Linked DNA regions of Homo sapiens: regions 2 and 3 are each linked to region 1. Evidence: fine-mapped expression QTL. A gene starts in region 1. Each other region holds a variant in brackets. All regions are shown on one strand. Distances are between the middles of the regions.

Evidence for each region.
Region 2: its variant is fine-mapped to the expression of PRUNE2 in whole blood (TOPMed, PIP above 0.99).
Region 3: its variant is fine-mapped to the expression of PRUNE2 in lymphoblastoid cells (GTEx, PIP above 0.99).

Annotation. Positions count from the first base shown.
Region 1 is chr9:76,902,235-76,910,168 of GRCh38, reverse strand. PRUNE2 (prune homolog 2 with BCH domain) reads left to right here and starts at 4,055. Exons shown (of 19, transcript NM_015225.3): 1 at 4,055-4,241. The coding sequence starts at 4,206. RefSeq lists a silencer at 3,926-3,985.
Region 2 is chr9:76,700,418-76,708,351 of GRCh38, reverse strand. PRUNE2 (prune homolog 2 with BCH domain) reads left to right here. Exons shown (of 19, transcript NM_015225.3): 8 at 1-3,591; 9 at 4,253-5,015. Among named protein-coding and RNA genes, the nearest start is that of PCA3, 60 kb to the left of the region's middle. The variant G/A (reference allele first, on the strand shown) is at 2,628.
Region 3 is chr9:76,709,275-76,717,208 of GRCh38, reverse strand. It overlaps PRUNE2 (prune homolog 2 with BCH domain), which reads left to right. Exons shown (of 19, transcript NM_015225.3): 7 at 3,488-3,646; 8 at 5,851-7,934. Among named protein-coding and RNA genes, the nearest start is that of PCA3, 51 kb to the left of the region's middle. The variant G/C (reference allele first, on the strand shown) is at 5,517.

The DNA of each region.
Region 1 (7,934 bases):
CAGATGGCCATGTTTCTCCTGTGTCCTCACATGGTGGGAAGGAAGAGGTGGGGGGAGGGAGAGAGAGAGACACTAATCCCATCATGAGCGCTCCACCCTCACCACCTCATCTAAACTTAATGACACCCAAAGGCCCACCTCCTGATACCAGCACATTGGGGGTTAAGGTGTCAACACAGGAATTTTGGGGGGACACAGGCATTTAATCCATAATAACCACTTTACTAATCTACTCAAGATAATGATTTCAAAAATAAAGAGAGTTCGGATACAGGTCTCAAATGAGGGGAGTCCAGGAATCAAGAAATCTGAGAGAGAGTAAAGCAAAGAGTAGAGGAAATGGGATTGTTCTGCCAACAAGGACAAGGGACTCTAGAGAGAAGAGGGTGAAATGAGGTTCAGATACAAATACATAAATTACGATCGTAGTGCTTGGAATAGAAAGAAAGGAAGTTGAAGGAGGCTTTTTTAAAGTTTGAACACTTTGGACTGGGGACTATTTGGCCACAGTGGGTGGCAGAGTGTAGTAAATCAAAGGGAACTCCAGGTTTTGTACCTGAGTGACTGAGGAATGCGAATTCATCTAACATCAGCAGTAGTTCCCAACCCTGACTACACGGAGAATTACCTGGAGAGCTTTGAAAAAATATTGATGCCTGGGCCCCTCTCAAGATCGCTCAATTCAGAATTTCTGTTCTGAATTGTTCTGTTTTAATGTTCCAGAGATGGAGCTTGGAACATTAGTTTGTTTTTTTGGAGGCTCCCAGGTGATTCCACTGTGCAGCCAGGGTTGACAATATCTTACCTAGAGTTAAAGTCACTAGATTTCTGGCTGCTATGGAATCATAAAAATTGGAGGATCAAATGCCGATAGCTACCAAATAACATCATGTATGGTTTGTGGTGTATGCAGAAAAATGACCTCCCAAAGATGTCTACAACCTAATCCTTAGAACCTATGAGTATGTTAGGTTACATGGCAAAGGGAATTAAGTTTTCAGATGAAATTAAGGTTGCTAATGAACTGACCTTGAAATGGGGGAGATTATCCTGGATTAACCAAATAGGCCCAATGTAAACACAAGGGCCCCTAAAAAGTGGAAAAGGAGGTTAGAAGAACAGTCAGAGAAATGAAATGTTGCTGGCTTTGAAGATGGAGTAAGTCTGGGCGCGGCAGCTCATGCCTGTAATCCTAGCACTTTGAGAGGCCGAGGCGGGCAGATCACTTGAGGTCTGGAGTTCCAGACCAGCCTGGCCAACATGGTGAAACCTGTCTCTACTAAAAATACAAAAATTAGCTGGGCATGGTGGTGCGCATCTGTAATCCCAGCTACTCGAGAGGCTGAGGCAGGAGAATAGCTTGAACCCGGGAGGCAGGGGTTGCAGTGAACCCAGGTTGTGCCATTCCACTCCAGCCTGGGGTACTAGAGGGAAACTCCATCTCGAAAAAAAAGAAAGAAAGAAAGAAAGAAAAAAACAGATGGAGGAAGATGCCACAAGTCAAAAAACATGGGCAGCTTCTAGTCGATTGTCCCCTAGAGCCTCTAAAAAAGAATGTAGCTCTGTTGATACCTTGCTTGCCCAATGAGACCTGTGTAGGACTTTTGACCTACATAACTGTAAGGTAATACATTTATGTTGTTTCAAGCCACTGAATTTGTGAGATTCTGTTAAAACAGCCCCAGGAAGCTAATATAGGTGGTCAGCTTAGGAAGGTTTCATAGAAAATGTTAATTTTGATAAACTTTTGAAGGGACATTATTGGTGGAGAAAAAGATGGGGAGATTGATGTTGGAATTTGAGTCCATCAGAATTTTTTTTTAACATTTCAAGGATGTGTGATACCTACCTAGAATATTTATAAGCCAAAGCTAGAGGAATAAAACAGTATTATGTAATTGGTGCTAAATTCCCCAGTGAAGTCAGAGGCAAGGCATTCTCTAGAATTTTTCTCAGTAATGTTACTTGAATTGTGTGCAACTTCACAGATTTAAAGGCTGACAAAATACTTGCTTTACCTGGTTGGTTTTAAATTACTTAAGTCAGTACAGAAAGCAGACAGAATCTCCAGCTTCCACAAAGCCCACCCCTGAATGTCACCTGGAGCTTAATATTCTTATCACTCTCCTTTAATCAGATCTGTGGACCCTGCTGATTTGTTTTCATTGGATCCTTCTGAATAAAAAATAATTGGATCATGAGACACACATATACACACAGAGACAGACAAGAAAACAGACACACATTGAGACAGGAGAAATAGAGCAAAAAAAAAAAAAACCCTTCCATATGTACCTTTTTTCATTAAAACATATTTATTGAGGACCTGTATATGACATGAACATACATCATGTTAGGGTTCCATCAGTGAATGAGACAGGCAAGGTCCCTGTCTTTACAGAGCTCACAGCCTGGTGGAGGACATAGACAAATAATTATGCAATTTATAGCAGAGTGGAAAATGTAAGTTGCTATGAGGGAATACAGAAGGGGCAACCAACTCAGTCTGGGGATGGGAAGGGAAAAGTGTGTTGGGGAGGCTTTCTGGAGAAAGAGAACTTCTACGCCACTCACTGTCAAAGTGTGGTTTTTGGATCAGCAGCATCGGCAAACCCTGGGAGATTGTATACATGGACATTCTCAGGCCCATTAAGCCACACCTATTAGGGCTAAAATTCTAAGGATGGGGCACGGAAATCTGTGTTTCATCAAGCCCTCTAAGTGATTTAGATACATGTAAAGTTCATCGAGAATCAGAGCATCACACCTGAACTGCACATTAGAATCACTTGGGTCACTTTCCACAGAAATGCTGTGGCCCCATGCCCAGAGATATTAATTTAATTGGACTGGGATAAAGCCCTGGTATCAGTACTTTCTCAAGTCTCAGGTGATTACGATGTGATTTTACTGTGCAGTCAGGGTTGAGGCTACTTCTGTAGAACAGCTGAGGCTGGGGGCTAGGACAAGGGCTGGAAGGATCTTACAGGTGGTGTGCAAAAGCCCAGAGGTCAGAGAAAGCCTGATGTAGTGTGTTTGGGGACCGGACAAGGCTACATACAACAAAACCCCATGATTTAAAATAAGGTTTGTAGATATAAGTTCATTTGTTCATTGTAGTACTTCTTAAACTTTAACAAGCATAGAAATCATCTGAGGGTCTCATAGAAACACACAGATTCTGATTTGGTAAGTAGGAGCAGGGGACTGAGGTTCTGCATTTCTATAAGATCAGCGATGCTGATGTTGCCGGTCTGCAGACTGCACCTCACCTTAGCAAGGTTCTATTGCCCCAGCTTTCCCTGAGGGTACATGTCAGTGGATGGGAACTGCAGAAGGATGTATCTATGCATTAGTCCCAGGGCTGACATAAGGGCACCTAGTTGGGGTGAACTGTGGATGCCCATTGTTGTGTGGACATGTTTTCATGGTAGGGAGGAAAGACGCAGCCTCGCCCAACCTCCTAGCCTGCTCTTCTGATTATTATCCATCAAGGTCGTACTGCTTTTAGCTCAGCAGTAACTCCCCTCTTTCTCTCCTCGTCCCTCCCACGCCAATCTAGCTGAGTGCCTCCCCCGGCCAGGCCAGCCGACCAGATCATTAAGTGACCGCCGGAGTGCTCCGTAACGCGCCAGCCAGCCAGTGAGGCGCTGGGCGAGGCGGGGGCTCTCCTGGGACCCGTCTCCCTCTTCCCACCTTCCCCCGCTGACCGCGGCGGTGCCTGCGGCAGAGCCTCCCTCTGCAGCAGCCCCTTGCACTTGGCTCGCACTTCTGGGCGCTGTCCATGGTTGCAGCAGCTTTCGGCGCGCCACGTCAGGAGGCCGCAGCACGGCCCTGCGATTGGCGGAGGAGCCCCTCGCCATACCCCTGCACCTCCGCCCACGCGCCACGGCGCCCGAGGCGCGTGCCAGAGAGCGTGCCCGGCGCGCCCCGGGGCTCCTGGGCGGCACACCCACTTTCCTTATTAGGGCAGAGTCGGGTGCCCAGAGCCGGCGGCCGGGCGAGGGGTGGGGCGGGGAGCCCTGGGCGAGACGGTCGAGGGCGCAAGCACAGCCTCCGCCGCAGCCGCCTCAGAGCGGCAGGAGGGAGCAGTCGGTCGCTGCGCCCCGGCGGGCCACTTTCCCGGGACCCCGCTCGTCTTCCTTGGGCCGAGATTTTCCACTGCGCCCCTCCGAGTACCCGGGTTCCAAACCCCTAGCCACGACATGGAAGAATTTTTGCAACGCGCCAAATCTAAACTGGTAAGTTGAGTGAGCAAAGCTGTGTGTGTGCGCGCGCGCGTATGCTAATGGAAAGGTGGAGAGGAAAAGGTGTTGCAGCAGAGGAGGAAGAAACAACTTTGCCACGGAGTTATCAGGGTGTGCGGGTTGTCTCCTGGAAGAAATCTCAGGAACTCTGGCTCTTAAAGCTGGCAATCTGTCTCCAGAATCCTCCACCGCAACCAGACGAGGTGCAGAGCTGAAGGAGGTTGTGGCCTGGCTGAAGTTGGGTCGCTTCAGTCCAGCTTCGGTCCCTAAATCAGCAGTTTGCTCCTGAAAGCTAAGGGATAAATGGGTGTGGTCTTCCTTGAGATAAAGAGCCCAGCCTTCTGCAGATGCATTACGTGTAAGTGTAAAAGGAAAAAAAGAGACCCTTAGAACTGTACTTCAGCTGGAGGTGACAAAAGTGAGGAAGTCAGGGTGCTGGGTAGCAAGGACATGTGTGGTACTGGAGAATCCACAGAATAGAGCTTGCTCCACTGCAGGAGTTAGGGATATTCTAGTGTGTCTTGTGTCTCGCTAATTCCTGTTCACATCTGTAAATTGGGGCGGAGGCAGAAGGGGAAAGCTCTAACTGTTGGTGTTCTGGAGTTTACCAGATCATCGTTCTCCCGGGAGCAGACCTGTGTGTTAGCCCATGTTTACCATATCACTGTCCAAACAGTGAATGGGCAACTCCACTGTGTATGTTAACAGTTGCTACACATTCTGAAACAACAGACTCTAGCAGTTTCTTAATTCCAAACTGTTTTGGCTCTCCAGCACAGCAGTAATAAACATAATGGAAATGTTTCTGTTTTGGCAGAAAAAAAAAGAAAAGCCTGTACTCATTTAGAAGCAATATCTTTAAAGAACTGTAAAAGCACCTTTTACAGGCCTGGCATAGAAAGAAATGCATAATTTATGATGCCTTTAACCTTTAAGCCTTCATAGAAGCCAAAATGTAAAGTCTGCATTAAGGTAATGTTTTAATCACAAGGCAGGATATTTGCAGGGTTATTACTGTAACTCATTTACCCTCGCACAACAAAGGGAGTGCAGGAAGGGAGGGCCCAAAGATGCCTGAACCACCATTCAGAGTGCAGACGGAAGTGTGATCCTTACAATGGTCTAACTGTAACTATCTTGTAAAAGACCATTAAAGTTGATAAGTGCTTATATAAAACTTTCTACCTGAAACCTCCCAGAGAGTTGAACGTTTGTGGAGATTTCCGAGTTGAGGAAGTTTGTGATCATCTCTGTGTTTATTGACCCTTTTATAGTTTTACTAGAGCACATGGATGAAAATACTAATTTCAGAAACTCAAGTAAGTATTTGGCATTTCTGATAGTATAAGTACATGTTCTGTTCTTTACCTAGTAATGAAGGAGAAATGTTCAAAAATGAAAGACAATTTTGGCAACTGTGCGTGTGTGTGTATGAAAATGGTAATCAATGACAAACACAGAGTTCTGGGCTGTATCTGTTTTTCACTCCCATAACATTTATTTATCAATATTTTCACAATAAACATTTAGACTGTGGGGTCTGATATGAGCAAGAGGTTTGTCTCAATTCTGAGGAGCAGTTGCTGGAATGGAAGTTTCCCTATTTCCGAGTAATGAGTTGAAAGTAATCTGTAATTTATTTACCCTTCATTAGACGAGCAATTGCTCTACATCATTAAAAAAAAAAGGACAGGAAAGAGAAGCGGTTGTTTGAAATATTGTTACCAGTTTCATGTCTTAGCCAGAACAATTACTGCTAATTTTATCGTTTCTTGGAATAAGCTTCTTCTAGAAATCATGATTAACCTTTCACATCCAGCCACAGCAAAGGTGTGTTGGTCACTTTTAGTGTCATATTTTCCTGAGAAGTTACATTTTCTAGGTAATAAGATTTTTACTTAATGTATGACACTCAAATATAGTAGTAGATAACATTCTCCTTTAGAGGGTAGATAACCTTTTTCTTGGAGAAAAAGAATTAAGTCAATGTCATTCACTTGTGGGAAATTTATTTATAATAAAAAGGTAAGATTTGGCCGGGTGTGGTGGCTCACGCCTGTAATCCCAGCACTTTGGGAGGCTGAGGCGGGTGGATCACCTGAGGTCAGGAGTTCGAAACCAGCCTGGCCAACATGGTGAAACCTCATCTCTACTAAAAGTACAAAAGTTAGCCAGGCATGGTGGCGTGTGCCTGTAATCCCAGCTACTAGGGGGGCAGAGGCAGGAGAATCACTTGAACCTCGGAGGCGGAGGTTGCAGTGAGTCGAGATTGTGCCACTGCACTCCAGCCTGGGCAACAGAGCGAGACTCAGTCTCAAAAATAAAATAAAATAAAATAAAATAGTAAGATTTTTAAAAATTCAGCCAATCCTTTGGAAAACATTTTAAGGTGAAGAAATTTACCATGCTGATTTTTACTTAAGCCTTATTAGACCAGAATTAGAATGTAGGAGCTATGTTTTAAATGTTTTTCTTTAGAAGTTTAGCTATATGATACCTAAACAAACAAACAAAAAAGCCTAATTACTAGTTTGGTTTTTTTTTTTCCTATTTGGCTTAATTGCTTTGTTATTCTGTGGGCATTATATATATTTTTTAATGGTTTGAAATAGTTAATGACTCCTCCAAAGTCCTAACATAACCTCATCATCATTGGGGCTAGCTAATTCCAATAGGCAAAAAGAACTTTAAATTGCAAAATGGAATTGCTATTAGCCATAGATATAATCTCCAATAATCAAAATGTTGGAAAAATTGTGTGTCTTTTTTTCTGACTGGGAACATTTATTATTCATCTGTCATTGTAAGGAGAGAGGAAACTCTGCTATTCTAGGCCAGGCCCCTAGGTTGAACAGAAGTCTTTGAAAGAAAAGGATATTTTGAATTTTTATCAGGTAGTTTGGAGCTGATTTCCAATAAGTTAGGAGATCACTCTCAATTCTATTTTTAATCCCAGTCTGGCCCTACTACTCTTTAAATTGAGGCAGATTCACTGACATAATCCCATCCTCCTTTTCCCTAAATCTCCCTTTCTAATACCTTTCCCTCCCTCCTGAGAATACTCAGTATTTATCAGAAATGGCAAAAGTAAACTCCAGGTGTGGCCTCAGAGGCATCCCTCCTCCTGGGGCTCAAATGCTTCTCATGTGGGCCTGACTTCTGCCTGGTTAGGACAGGCTGGGGGCTGGAGCATATTTGTGAAAAACTTGGTTGGAGGTGGGGCACGGCTAGGGAGGTAGTTACTTCTTCCAAGCAGTCTCCAGAAATGCTCCCTTCTAGACAAACAAGGAATGACACATATGGAATTGACACGAGGATTGTTAAAGCAATAATAACAGTAGGATAAGCAATCTGAGAGCAAGCCCCGCAAGCTTGAGATCGTAATCAAAGAGTGGCGCTTCCTAGTTGAAATCACTTCCTTGATGTGAGAACCCAGCCATATTTTTGGTCTGGATACTTACTACCAAAACTAGAGAGAGTGCAAACGTATTTTCTTTTTTCTCCTGCCCATTCAGAGTTGCAGAAATCAAATCCTATATTCCAGATCAGTCCTTAAGTTTTAGCCATGCTTTCTGTTCTTAGTTACATCATTTCTATGGTAAGAGAAGTTGAAGGAGTGTAGGGAATGAGGGCTCCCTGCTCTATGCTGTGATTTGGGAAATGACCCTCAACTTCATAGTGGTCAGC
Region 2 (7,934 bases), 200 kb after region 1:
GGTATTTTCCACACCCAGATCCATGGAAAGGTCATGGCGATGGACAAAGTGAAAGTGAGAAGGAAGCCCAGGGAGCCACTGACAGGGGGCACCTTGATGAAGAGGAGGTGATCGCCTCTGGTGTGGAGAATGCCTCAGGGATTTCTGAAAAAGGGCAGAGTGACCAGGAACTGTCTTCTCTGGTTGCATCTGAACATCAGGAAATCTGCATTAAATCAGGCAAAATCAGCTCTCTTGCTGTCACTTTCAGTCCTCAAACCGAGGAACCAGAGGAAGTTTTAGAGTATGAGGAGGGGTCTTACAATCTAGACTCCCGTGATGTGCAAACAGGGATGTCCGCAGATAACCTGCAGCCAAAAGATACCCATGAAAAACACCTCATGAGTCAAAGAAATTCAGGTGAAACTACTGAGACTTCAGATGGGATGAATTTCACAAAATATGTATCTGTACCTGAAAAGGATCTTGAGAAAACTGAAGAATGTAACTTTCTAGAGCCAGAGAACGTGGGTGGAGGGCCACCTCACAGAGTTCCCCGAAGTCTTGATTTTGGGGACGTCCCTATAGACAGTGATGTGCATGTCAGCAGCACATGTTCTGAGATAACCAAAAATCTTGACGTTAAGGGGTCTGAAAATAGCCTTCCAGGAGCCGGTTCGTCTGGAAATTTTGACAGAGATACTATTTCTAGTGAGTATACTCATTCAAGTGCATCAAGTCCTGAGTTAAATGACTCTTCAGTTGCACTGTCCTCCTGGGGCCAGCAACCCAGTTCTGGGTATCAAGAAGAAAACCAAGGCAACTGGAGTGAACAGAATCACCAAGAATCTGAACTAATTACCACTGATGGCCAAGTAGAAATAGTTACCAAAGTGAAGGATTTAGAGAAAAACAGAATAAATGAGTTTGAAAAGAGCTTTGATCGCAAAACTCCTACATTTTTAGAGATCTGGAATGACTCAGTTGATGGTGATTCCTTTTCCTCTTTATCCAGTCCTGAAACAGGCAAATATTCTGAACATTCAGGGACACATCAGGAAAGCAATCTAATTGCTAGCTACCAGGAGAAAAATGAACATGACATTTCTGCAACTGTGCAGCCAGAGGATGCCAGGGTCATTTCAACAAGCTCAGGTTCTGATGATGACAGTGTCGGTGGTGAAGAGTCAATAGAGGAAGAGATCCAGGTGGCCAACTGCCACGTTGCTGAGGATGAATCCAGAGCTTGGGATTCATTGAATGAATCTAATAAGTTCTTGGTCACAGCTGATCCTAAGTCTGAAAATATTTATGACTACCTAGACAGCTCAGAGCCAGCAGAGAATGAGAATAAGTCAAACCCATTCTGTGACAATCAACAAAGCAGCCCTGATCCCTGGACTTTCTCACCATTAACGGAGACTGAAATGCAGATTACAGCAGTGGAGAAGGAGAAGAGATCTTCTCCAGAAACAGGGACAACAGGAGATGTTGCATGGCAAATATCTCCCAAAGCTTCGTTCCCAAAGAACGAAGATAATTCTCAACTGGAAATGCTGGGCTTCTCAGCTGATAGCACTGAGTGGTGGAAGGCCTCACCCCAGGAAGGGAGACTAATTGAAAGTCCATTTGAAAGGGAGCTGTCTGACTCCAGTGGTGTGTTGGAGATAAATTCTTCAGTACACCAAAATGCCAGTCCCTGGGGAGTACCAGTTCAGGGTGATATTGAGCCCGTGGAAACACACTATACTAATCCTTTTAGTGACAACCATCAGTCACCCTTTCTGGAAGGTAATGGGAAGAACTCCCATGAGCAACTCTGGAACATTCAACCAAGGCAGCCAGACCCAGATGCTGACAAGTTCAGCCAGCTTGTAAAATTAGACCAAATTAAAGAAAAGGACTCAAGAGAGCAAACCTTTGTGTCTGCTGCTGGTGATGAGCTGACTCCTGAAACACCTACCCAAGAGCAGTGTCAGGACACCATGCTGCCAGTCTGTGATCATCCGGACACAGCCTTTACTCACGCAGAGGAAAATAGTTGTGTTACATCTAATGTTTCAACTAATGAAGGTCAAGAAACAAATCAGTGGGAACAAGAAAAATCATACCTAGGTGAGATGACAAATTCAAGCATTGCCACAGAAAATTTTCCTGCTGTCAGTTCTCCCACCCAACTGATAATGAAGCCAGGCTCTGAATGGGATGGCTCTACCCCAAGTGAGGACTCCCGAGGTACCTTTGTGCCAGATATTTTACATGGCAACTTTCAAGAGGGTGGGCAGCTGGCCTCTGCCGCGCCTGACTTGTGGATAGATGCTAAGAAGCCCTTCAGTTTGAAAGCAGATGGTGAGAATCCTGATATCCTGACGCACTGCGAACATGACAGCAATTCTCAGGCTTCCGACAGCCCTGATATATGTCACGATTCTGAAGCAAAGCAAGAGACTGAGAAGCACCTCAGTGCTTGCATGGGACCTGAAGTGGAATCCAGTGAGCTTTGTCTCACTGAGCCAGAGATAGATGAAGAACCCATTTATGAGCCTGGACGGGAGTTTGTCCCATCCAATGCAGAACTCGATTCTGAAAACGCAACTGTGCTGCCTCCAATTGGCTATCAAGCAGACATAAAGGGCTCCTCTCAGCCC[G/A]CCTCTCATAAAGGTTCACCTGAACCTTCTGAAATAAACGGTGACAACAGTACAGGTTTACAAGTATCAGAAAAAGGAGCCAGCCCAGATATGGCACCAATTTTGGAACCAGTTGACAGAAGAATCCCAAGGATTGAAAATGTGGCAACTAGCATTTTTGTAACTCACCAAGAGCCAACTCCAGAAGGTGACGGTTCTTGGATATCAGACAGCTTTTCTCCTGAAAGTCAGCCTGGTGCAAGAGCTTTGTTTGATGGTGATCCACATTTATCCACAGAGAATCCTGCCTTGGTTCCTGATGCTTTGCTAGCCTCAGACACTTGTCTGGATATAAGCGAAGCTGCCTTTGACCACAGTTTCAGCGATGCCTCAGGTCTCAACACATCCACGGGAACAATAGATGACATGAGTAAACTGACATTATCCGAAGGCCATCCGGAAACGCCAGTTGATGGGGACCTAGGGAAGCAAGATATCTGCTCATCTGAAGCCTCGTGGGGTGATTTTGAATATGATGTAATGGGCCAGAATATCGATGAAGATTTACTGAGAGAGCCTGAACACTTCCTGTATGGTGGTGACCCTCCTTTGGAGGAAGATTCTCTGAAGCAGTCGCTGGCACCGTACACACCTCCCTTTGATTTGTCTTATCTCACAGAACCTGCCCAGAGTGCTGAAACAATAGAGGAAGCTGGGTCTCCAGAGGATGAATCTCTGGGATGCAGAGCAGCAGAGATAGTGCTTTCTGCACTTCCTGATCGAAGAAGTGAGGGAAACCAGGCTGAGACCAAAAACAGACTGCCTGGATCCCAGCTGGCTGTGCTGCATATTCGTGAAGACCCTGAGTCCGTTTATTTGCCGGTAGGAGCAGGCTCCAACATTTTGTCTCCATCAAACGTTGACTGGGAAGTAGAAACAGATAATTCTGATTTACCAGCAGGTGGAGACATAGGACCACCAAATGGTAAGAAACATTCCATTCTTCCACTTCCAAGAAACTGCTGCGTTGATTAAACTAGTGCATATTTGTAAGACACACTCTTCCTACCAATGAGGGTAGAGAGAAAACTAACTACATTTTCAAGGCATGCCTCACTAAGTCCTGTATTATAACAGCAGTAAAATCTAGTGCATATGTAATACCTATTCCTGATAGTGCACGAGAAAATCGAATGACTCTACAAAATAAAAATATTTTCTAGCTGGGCGCGGTGGCTCACGCCTGTAATCTCAGCACTTTGGGAGGCCAAGGAGGGGGGATCACCTGATGTCAGGTGTTCGAGACCAGCCTGGGCAGCATGGTGAAACCCCATGTCTACTAAAAATACAAAAATTAGCTGGGCGTGGGGGCAGGTGCCTGTAGTCCCAGCTACTCGGGAGGCTGAGGCAGAAGAATAGCTTGAAACCAGGAGGTGGAGGTTGCAGTGAGCCGAGATCACACCATTGCACTCTATCCTGGGTGACAGAGCGGGACTCTGTCTCAAATGAATGAATGAATAAATAAATAAAATATATAAAAAATATTAAATTACCTCTTTTAGATGATCATTTGCAAGGATCACAAATCACACAATGTGTTAATTAAACCTTTTTCTCCTCTTCTCACTTTCAACTTCCACTTCTAGGTGCCAGCAAGGAAATATCAGAATTGGAAGAAGAAAAAACAATTCCTACCAAAGAGCCTGAGCAGATAAAATCAGAATACAAGGAAGAAAGATGTACAGAGAAGAATGAAGATCGTCATGCACTACACATGGATTACATACTTGTAAACCGTGAAGAAAATTCACACTCAAAGCCAGAGACCTGTGAAGAAAGAGAAAGCATAGCTGAATTAGAATTGTATGTAGGTTCCAAAGAAACAGGGCTGCAGGGAACTCAGTTAGCAAGCTTCCCAGACACATGTCAGCCAGCCTCCTTAAATGAAAGAAAAGGTCTCTCTGCAGAGAAAATGTCTTCTAAAAGCGATACGAGATCATCTTTTGAAAGCCCTGCACAAGACCAGAGTTGGATGTTCTTGGGCCATAGTGAGGTTGGTGATCCATCACTGGATGCCAGGGACTCAGGGCCTGGGTGGTCTGGCAAGACTGTGGAGCCGTTCTCTGAACTCGGCTTGGGTGAGGGTCCCCAGCTGCAGATTCTGGAAGAAATGAAGCCTCTAGAATCTTTGGCACTAGAGGAAGCCTCTGGTCCAGTCAGCCAATCACAGAAGAGTAAGAGCCGAGGCAGGGCTGGCCCGGATGCAGTTACGTTGCAGGCTGTCACCCATGACAATGAATGGGAAATGCTTTCACCACAGCCTGTTCAGAAAAACATGATCCCTGACACGGAAATGGAGGAGGAGACAGAGTTCCTTGAGCTCGGAACCAGGATATCAAGACCAAATGGGTAAGCAAAAAGCTAGATTTATTTTTTTTCCTGAAAAGCAATTTATTTAGAAACCTGGGAAATGGTTAGAGGTTATGGAATATGAGGAATACCTGGATGATAGCAGCTTTGCTTATATTGAATGCAAGGCACACCATCAGTAAAAGCAGCTACTAGATAACTATAACCATAATGATAATTTATGTACATTTTCAGCCAAAAAGCCCCTTCAATTTTCATTCAGTCTTATACCTACCCCCCAACTGCCACCCCACCTACTTGAATACCTACATGACTCTTCAACAGGCAGTTGGGAATACAAGGAAGTGACACTAACATTTAATCAGCACCTACTATGTGCAAGGCAGTTTGCATACATTATCTCATTTAATCCTAACATGCCAGTGGGGGGAATGGAAGGAGTAGGGTTGAGTAGGGGGATTCAAGGCTCAGAAATTTTCTATAATTTGCCTAGAATTAAGTAACCAGAGTGAACACCTGGGATTCGAAGCTTGCCACCTCCAAAGCCTGTACTTTCTCAGTTGACACACCGCTTAGCATACAGAGGCATTTTCATATTTTCAAATACAAGGCATTTTCTGGTTTTATGTAAGCACCTAACTTATAGTTAGATAAGAGACAGGCTCCACAGCAGTCTCCAAATCTCAGTGTAACACATTCATTCCCTAATTGGCAGAGAAATTGGCAAACTGTCATTAAATCAGTGATTCATTCATTCATTCATTCACCATGTGGTTTTTGAGAGCTTGCTCTGTGCCGTGGTTCTGGGTAGCCAATGGGCATATATCAGGGAATAGGATGTCATCACTGCCCTCAAGCTTCCAGTCTCTGCTGAAACTGTTTAGCATTCTTCATTTCTCTTCATTTGTGTTTATGAAGCCCACCTGCTTCCAGGGACAAAAGAACAAATTGTGAAAAGTAACTTAAGTAACGGGGAAAGTCATGTTTTCTCCTTAAAATGTAATAGAGAAAAGATATCGGCCAGGTGCGGTGGTTCATACCTGTAATCCCAACACCTTGGGAGCCCAAGGTGAGTGGATCACTTGAGGTCAGGAGTTTGAAACCACCCTGGCTAACATGGTGAAACCCCGTCTCTACTAAAAATTCAAAACTTAGCTGGGGTGGTGGCAGCACCTGTAATCCCAGCTACTTGGGAGGCTGAGACAGGAGAATTGCTTGAACCTGGGAGGTGGAGGTTGCAGTGAGCCGAGATCGTGTGACTGCACTCCAGCCTGAGTGACAGAGCCAGACTCCGTCTCAAAAAAAAAAAAAAGCGAGAAAAGATATATTTTTGCTACTCAGCTTGGGAGTGTAAAGGACTATACACATCACATACCCACAGTGAGTCAAGGAATCTGGATTCCAGCCTGCCTCTACCATGACTGATTATACATTTTAGGATTAATCCCAGGCTTAGGTTTTCTCATGCGTAAAATTAGTGAGTTGGGCTGAAAGATCTCAAGGCTTCCTGCAGTATTAAATTCTGGGAACTTAATTTGTGTGGAAACAGAATGTGTCCAGGGGAGCTTTGGCATTCACAAATTACATTTCTTGATGAAAGGAACAAGGACAATGGAAAGAATAGCTGGGGTATGTTGAGGATTAGCCAAGTGCAGAAGGGGTTAAAAGCTCTACCATATTCCAGGGCAGCTTCATAAATCCAGACATTGTCAGCTGGCCTAATCCTTCTTTCTTCCTGTCAAGCTATTTTCTTCCAGAGAGACCCCAGATCCGTTATCAGAAAGAGAGTAGCAGATGGATCCCAGCAGCCCTGCTGGCATTGTTATAGATTGAGCTCAGAACTCAGGCAGCCATGAGTTGGCTGAGCTATTGTTTGGCTTCTTGTGTGCATTTTGCACATGCCCCGAGATCCAACAGATGACAGTCAGTGTTCAATTGTGCCACCAGCACCTTTTCTTTCAACAAGATTTCTTTGCTCATCCCTTTCTGCTCAGCTTTTGTAGTACTGAAACTTTTCTCACAATGGGGATGGGGCAGATTTTCCCTCCGGCATGTGTATTATCTTTTGCATAAATAATTTACTGTGAATGTGTAAGTCTCCCTCTGTGCTAGATTTTGGGAGAATAAAGAGTTGTCTAAAACTGTGGTTCTCTAAGTGGGGTCCTAAGAACAGCAGCATCAGTATCACCTGAGTACTTGTTAGAAATGCAAATTATCGGCTCCGACTCAGACCTCCGGAATCAGGAACTCTGGGGGTGAGGCCCAGCCAGCTGAGCTTCAGCAACTCCTGATGCCCTCCAAAGCTTGAGAACCACTGGTTTAAAACATACTGTCAGCCGTCTAGGAGTTTACAGTTTAACTAAAGAGTTAGACATAAGTAAAAAGGTAGATAGCAGTGTAATATTTAAGTCAAGCTAGTCAATGCCCAATGTCAGTTTAAGTATAAAATGGGTACTAACTACAGGCTATTTGCTGTTGGACCAGGTGTTAAGCACTCTGCGCTATTTCACTTTACATAGGGCAACCCTGCGAGACAAGAATTATACAAGTGAGGAAATAAGAGGAGAGATATCTGTTTCGGGCGCCTTTATGGAGCAGGCAGCAGGAATGGCTTATTCTCTGTCAGACACAGGAGACAGAGTGCCCAGGGCCCATGATACTTTAAGGAGCCCATGAGAATATTTTCTTTTATAGTCAGAAGAAAAAATTATTATACTTTCAAGTGGATTTGTCTTTATACCAACAAAGTTATAAAATAAATTTTTAAAAAATGTTTTAATGACAGAAGGGGCTTATGAAGGCACTCCTCAAGGGGCTTATGAAAGTCACTAAAGGAAAGGTCATAATTTGGAAAGGCAAAGAAGAGGGTAAGAAGCTAGCTGAGTGAACTGGGATGAATACTATGAAGGAAGCCATGGGGACAGGAAGGTAATCACAGAAGCAAAACAATGAGATAGC
Region 3 (7,934 bases), 190 kb after region 1:
AAGATCGAATCTGGCTTGGAGAGCTGATGAGAATCTGTTTTAGGGTTATTGTAAAATGTATTTTGTTTCTCTAACTTGCCTAGGTGATTCAAATAGTTTTTTGATTTATCAGTGCTTCATTTGGTCCTGTGGAATTTGGGGTCACCCAGGGGAAAACTGAGCTAGAGCACTTGAGGGACATGATGAAAATACAGTCTCTGCAGCCATAAAAAAGGATGAGGTCATGTCCTTTGCAGGGACATGGATGAAGCTGGAAGCCACCATCCTCAACAAACTAACATGGGAACAGAAAACCAAACACTGCATATTCTCACTCATAAGTGGGAGTTGAACAATGAGAACACATGGACACAGGGAGGGGAACAGCACACACTGGGGCCTGTTGGGGGGTTGGGGGGCGAGGGGAGGGAATCTAGATGATGGGTCAATAGGTGCAGCAAACCACCATGGCACACATATACCTATGTAACAAACCTGCGCATTCTGCACATGTATCCCAGGACTTAAAACAAAATTTTAAAAATTAAATTAAATTAAAAATAAACATACCTATACCATTCTGAAAAAAAAATAAAGAAAAAGAAAATATAGTCTTGATCCAGTGCCCAACCTGCTAAATGAGAACCTGTAGCAAATCGGCCCAGAAACGCACACCCTAAGGGGACTTTTATGATGAGGTTGCCATAGGAACAAAGAGCTGGCAGTGTGAGTCAGTACAAGTCCTGTGACAGTGCTGAGAGAGTCCAAAGGACTGGTTTGTAGGAAAATATATCAACTAATAAATCCCTCTCTGGAGTAGTGCTTTTCAGATTTCAACGTGCATTCCAATTCCTAGGATTGTTGGAAAATGCAGATCCTGCTTCAATAGGTCTAGTGTTTTGCCGGAGACTCTGCATTTCCAACAAGATGCCTGGTGTTGCCAATGCTTTTGGACTTGAGTCCATCGAGGTCCTAGAGCCATCAGTTTAACACAGAAGAATTAAAACAGTTTGGAGATCAGCCGGCATTTTTGAATAGGAAACTTTCCACAAGTGTGGCTTTGAACAGTGTTGATTCTACTGATTCTTAATCTTATGCTCAGATACAAATAAAACCTGCCCCCTCTTGTTTCAGTGACCCGGCCAGGAGTGTAGTGAGAATTTTGTTATATGTAAAAATCTCTTAGAAATGTGTGTCTTCTTTCAAGGGTTTATAAATGTATTTGGAGGCCTTTATATACATAACGAAAAATACTTAGAAAGGAAAACTGTAAGGCTTATTGTGCTGAAGCCTTCAGTTACTGGAAATAAGTTGTAGTTAGTTGTAGTCTCTTTTTATTTTTTTCAGGGCTATATCTTTTTTTACAGTTCATAGTTGCTACAAGTTTAGCAATGAGGTTCTTGATTCACCCTCAATGATGGTTTGAAATAATTTTATCTGTTGAACACACATTGTATATGAGTTTTGATTATTTAAAAAATCTCCTTTTAAATATTTAATGTCTTTCTATTGTGGATGAATTAATTTTTTAAACATCTACTTAAAGATTGTTATTAGGCCATTTGGAAAATAAATAAAAAGCATGAAAGCTGACAGTACACACTTTGGAACACACACTTCCAAAAGCATATGTTCCAAACGCATATGACTTATATGATCATAAATGTCATTACAATAGATCCTTGATGTTCATCAGCATGAGAATAGATCCTGAGACCTTTGTGGATTCGTATGTGCAATTCCTTGCAACCAAAAAAGGGAAAGTGGCCCAGTAAGATGCCAGATGAGAGTGGCTGCCTTGGAGTAGACAGCAAAGCCTCCTCGAAACATGGAAGCCCGTGATGGGCGGGGCCTGCCTGCCTACCTACCCAGGGTCTTGTGTGCCCTCTTCAGAGCCTCACAGACCTTGAGATTCAACTCAGCAGAATTACAGAGTACGGGTATGATGGCTTTTTGAAGTGGCTGGTAAATAGTCTAAGCCACAAATACCCAATCCACGAGTTTCAAAGAATGACCACATAGACATTAATGTGGGTATGGGGAAATCTGCAACTCTCTGCACGGCATCGTTCACATCTTCACAGTGGCTGTCCTAGGAGATGTGTGTGGCACTTCCACTTTCTGTGGTACACATTTCTGTGTTGTTTTAGTATCTTACCCATGACAGGCATAATTCTGATTGCTATTATAATCAGAAAAAATGAACAGAATCTTTTAAATCCCTTGAGTGCACATCATGGTGTTTTTTGTTGAGTGACACAATAGACTGTCAGTTGATGAATTATGTGGTATGATCATATATGTGCTAGGATAGATATATATGTGGACTATGATAGAAGATTATGGATGATGGAGCACAGGTTGATTTTGTGTACCTGTCTCTCCAGTCATCCGACAAACATTTCTTGAACAACTAGTATATGCCAGGCATTATGTTAGGGGCTAGCATATGTTCTTCACTGTACTTCTTTAAGGAAGAGAGACACCCACACAGAGAAAGTGGCTCTCATTGTAGTTAATAAAACTCAAAGACCGGACCGGGTGCGGTCTTACGCCTGTAAGCCCAGCACTTTGCAAGGATGAAGTGGGTGGATCAGTTGAGCCCAGGAGTTCGAGACCAGCCTGGGCAAAATGGCAGAACCTGACGCCTACAAAAAAATACAATAAATTAGCTGGGCATGGTGATACACACCTGTAGCCCCAGCTACTTGGGAGGCTGAACTGGGAGGATTGCTTGAGCCCAGGAGGCATAGGTTGCAGTGAGCCGAGATAACGCCACAGCACTCCAGCCTGGGTGACAGTGTGAGACCCTGTCTCAAAAATAAATAAATAAGTACATACATACAGTAAATAAAACTTGAAGCAGCCAGAACATTTTTGCAAATGATATGAGCCACATCTGGGTAATCTGAGGTATTGGGATCCCTTTCTGCAATTATTCATTCCTCCACAGCTGCCACATAGAACAAGCAAATCTGACATCACAGCTCTTTTAAAAATCTCCCAGAATTCTACACTGGAATAAAGATCACCCAGTAAACTCAGCTATGTTGATTCGTAGGAATTTCTCCTTGGAGTTAATAATAATCATTAGAAAAAAAATACAGGAAGAAATAACTTCCTCCTATTCTTATTGTGATAAATTGTAACAATAGCAGACATTCGTATATAGATCCTATAAGCGACAAGAGGGAAAATAGGATTTGCAAATTAAGCATCTGAATAAATATTTTAGAAAAAAATGTTTAGGATATCTGTTCTTTGTCTAAACTATTATTAATAATGGCAAAAACTCCTTTCTTACATGGTTTGGGAAAACAAACAAGCAAAGTGTATTTTAAGCCATAGCATGAAAGTTTCCACTCCTTCTCAAAGCAAACTGTATTTCACTTGCCTTAAATAATAAATATCTCTCCTAAATACATCATAAGACTGGACAAATTTGTGGAACAACTCCCCGCAGCTGGGCAGTTTGACATTAATATCAAATTTCCTGTTGTCGTTTCAGAATTGTCTATTTCACAGCAATATTACCAGTGACTTGAAAGCATTTACAGACAAGTTTGGTTTTGATGTCCTCATCCTGTTCTCCAGCTATCTGTCAGAGGAGCAGCAGCCGAGACGACAGATTGCTGTGTACTCAGAAAACATGGAGCTGTGCAGTCAGGTGAGCCCCTCCTCTGACCCCGTCATGTTCCCTCTGTCCTAACCTGCTGGCTCTCAGAACACACAGTGCAAGACAGAACAGATTGGTGGCTCATGAGCAATTAGCCCAAGAGGTAGAGTCCTAGAGGTTTGAGTTTTAGGAAATGATGGGGGTACTTTTTACATTTGGCCTTTTAAGAAAGCCCCAAAAGCATTTCTCTTCTTGACTGAATCCATAGTGCAAAACATTAGCTCTTTCTCATTCCCAAAAGAGCAAGTTCTCCTTTGGGTGCTATTTTCTTCTAGGACTGCTCCCTGATCATAACTGACAAGGTTTAGCCCCTGTCCCAGGACCGGTTTGGTGCCCAGTGTTTAAGACCTGGTGATCTGATGCTTTAATCAAAGTTAGTTTGTCTCCAGGTACCAGAACTCTGACTAGGTAATCAGTTATCCTCCAGGTTGATAGCTGAGTCTTTTAACCCAAGGCCTAGGAAATAAAAAAAAAAAAGAATTAGATAAATTAATCAAAATAGGCCATCGGATATACCAAGCCAGGTGTACTTAATAACTAATATGAGAACATACATGATTCATTATAATAGGAGCCACACGGGGCCCCAGATGCTTCATTACTTATTTCTCTTCACTAATGGATTCAATGCCTTATGTATCCATGGGTGGCTAGAGGCACAGTCTCTGCCCCTTTCTTTTCTACATCCTCCTTTCTGTCCCCCAAGAGCTCCACTGTAGCTCTCTTGACCCATGCCTATGGGTACTCTCGGGCTCTCTCAAGTCCGAATGTGAAAGAGCATCTCCTCCTCTGACCTGCATCACCAGCCTGTGGTTTTTTCATCACTTTCCTCTGCATTTGGTTTCAAAGCTAAATTTCATCTTTGGTCACTGGCTTCCCAGGGACGGGATTTAGGCCTTGGAAGCCTACAACATGGCGGCTTTCACATCACTTTTAGCAGTAGACCCCTTTTTCAAACCAATGTGAAAATTGGTTCATTGGAAACAGACAAAAGTAGAAGAGCAGATGAAGGAGTTAAAAGCTCTTGAGTTGACCCCAGTCCTCCTCTCTTCTCCCCACCCACCCTCCCCATCCTAGCAATAGCCAGAGGTGGATCGCTGGAATCTTAAGCAACAGAGTCCTGGCTCTGGCCTAGCGAGTTCCTCTTGGCCTGTGTGGTCACACCACTGGCCGAGTCAGCCTTTGCAGCTAGGTTGCCTGGGTACAGAACTCAGGCTCCAGCACTTGTTAGCTGTGTGTTGCTGGACAAGTTATTTAATCTTCCTGTATCTTCATTTCTTCATGGGTAAAATAGGAATAAAAAGAGTTCCTACCTTGTGGAATTACTGTGGTGATTAAAAGAGATAATGATCATAAAACCCTTAGAACCATGCCTGGCACATGAAAGCACTCAATAAATGTTAATTAGTAGTAGTAGTAGTATCTATGTGAGCTCCATGGTGGTAGTGGTGGTTGTTATTATTATTATTAATTTTATCTCTACTAATCCCGTGGGGCCATTTCAAAGGCCCAGCACAACAAAATACTCCTGACATTCCTTAAAAATCAGAAAGCCGTAACCCAGTTCTGGCCTCACACTGACCATCCGTCAGTGTCCCCTTGCCTCCCAGGTTAGCTTTGCCTGTTTTGGGCTCCATGCCTCCGTTACCTGGGGTGAAAGGGACTGAGGGGTCCTGAGTGCTGTTCGGAAAGATCAGACTGCGGGAGCATCTTTGTCTTTCCTACTCTCTCTTTTGCATTCTGAAGCTATCAGAGGTTCAAGCAGCCCTGGCTGCCCCCTCCCAAACAACAGCCTGTCTCCTGATATTGTCCCCTTATTCCAACACTTTTCCTATAGTTGTCAGCAACATGCATTATCTCT[G/C]CTTTTTTGCAACTCGAATTACATTGCTATTGGAAGATGGTATTATATTACAGTTAGGAAAGAATAGGTGGTTTAAACTCCTTTACCCAAACGTTCAGGAGCCTTCAAAATCGAGCACCTGGATTTTGAATTAAACAGAGAGACAGTTGGATAGAATTGGAGAAAGGGTTGGTGGTACAGTAATCAGAACTTTCTAAGTTTGAGATCTTCTTTTTCAGACAGATGAACACAGATTAATTTTATATTTAAAAATTAAGCGAGATAAATTGCAAAGTGCAATTGCAAAGTGCAACAGTGCTTGAGTGCTGACACAAATTCCTGTGCCTTCCGACAGATTTGCTGTGAGCTGGAAGAGTGTCAGAACCCTTGCCTAGAACTGGAGCCCTTTGACTGTGGCTGTGATGAGATCCTGGTGTACCAACAAGAGGACCCTTCAGTGACTTGTGATCAGGTGGTTCTCGTTGTCAAGGAAGTCATCAACAGGAGGTGTCCAGAGATGGTCTCCAATAGCCGGACATCCTCAACAGAAGCCGTGGCAGGCAGTGCCCCCCTCTCCCAGGGGTCTTCTGGGATTATGGAATTGTATGGTTCTGACATAGAGCCACAACCCAGCTCTGTGAATTTCATAGAGAACCCTCCAGATCTCAATGATTCTAACCAGGCTCAGGTGGATGCCAATGTAGACCTTGTTAGCCCAGACAGCGGACTGGCTACCATTAGGAGCAGCCGCTCATCCAAGGAGAGCTCTGTTTTCCTCAGTGACGACAGCCCCGTGGGAGAAGGTGCTGGGCCTCACCACACCCTTCTCCCAGGGCTTGACTCCTACAGCCCCATCCCTGAAGGGGCGGTGGCGGAGGAACATGCATGGTCTGGAGAACACGGTGAGCACTTCGACCTCTTCAATTTTGACCCAGCACCCATGGCTTCTGGGCAGTCCCAGCAATCTTCTCATTCTGCAGACTACTCCCCAGCAGATGACTTCTTCCCCAACAGTGACCTGTCAGAAGGACAGCTCCCCGCTGGGCCTGAAGGACTTGATGGCATGGGAACCAACATGTCTAATTATTCATCCAGTTCACTTTTGTCAGGGGCTGGCAAAGATAGCCTTGTGGAACATGATGAGGAGTTTGTCCAGAGACAAGACAGTCCCAGAGATAACTCTGAAAGAAATTTGAGCCTGACAGATTTTGTGGGAGATGAATCCCCTTCCCCAGAAAGGCTAAAAAATACTGGAAAGAGGATCCCACCAACACCCATGAATAGTTTAGTAGAAAGCTCGCCATCCACTGAAGAACCAGCCTCACTCTATACAGAAGATATGACCCAAAAAGCAACTGACACAGGTCACATGGGGCCACCTCAGACCCATGCACGGTGCAGCAGCTGGTGGGGTGGTTTGGAAATTGACTCCAAAAATATTGCAGATGCGTGGAGTTCCAGTGAACAGGAATCTGTTTTCCAGAGCCCTGAATCATGGAAAGAGCATAAGCCAAGCTCCATTGATAGGAGAGCCTCAGATTCTGTATTTCAACCAAAGAGCCTCGAATTTACAAAGTCAGGTCCCTGGGAGTCTGAATTTGGTCAGCCTGAACTGGGTAGCAATGATATTCAAGACAAAAATGAGGAAAGCTTGCCGTTCCAGAACCTGCCCATGGAGAAGTCACCTTTGCCAAATACATCTCCCCAAGGAACAAACCACCTGATAGAAGACTTTGCTTCTTTGTGGCATTCTGGTCGCTCTCCCACAGCCATGCCCGAGCCCTGGGGAAATCCTACAGATGATGGTGAACCAGCAGCTGTGGCGCCATTCCCAGCCTGGAGTGCATTTGGTAAAGAAGATCATGATGAAGCTTTAAAAAATACCTGGAATTTGCACCCAACAAGCAGCAAGACACCTTCTGTTAGGGACCCGAATGAGTGGGCCATGGCAAAAAGTGGGTTTGCCTTTTCTTCTTCAGAACTACTGGACAATTCACCCAGTGAGATAAACAATGAAGCAGCTCCAGAAATCTGGGGCAAGAAAAACAATGACTCCAGGGATCACATCTTTGCACCTGGAAATCCCAGTTCTGATCTGGATCACACATGGACTAATTCTAAGCCACCAAAAGAAGATCAGAATGGTTTAGTGGATCCTAAAACTAGGGGCAAGGTATATGAAAAGGTAGATTCCTGGAACCTTTTTGAGGAGAATATGAAGAAAGGAGGGTCAGATGTCCTAGTTCCTTGGGAAGATTCCTTCTTATCTTACAAATGTTCTGATTACAGTGCATCCAACCTAGGAGAAGATTCGGTGCCTTCCCCCTTAGATACCAATTATTCCACCTCAGACTCTTACACATCACCAACATTTGCTGGAGACGAAAAGGAAACTGAACACAAGCCATTTGCTAAAGAGGAAGGTTTTGAGTCAAAAGA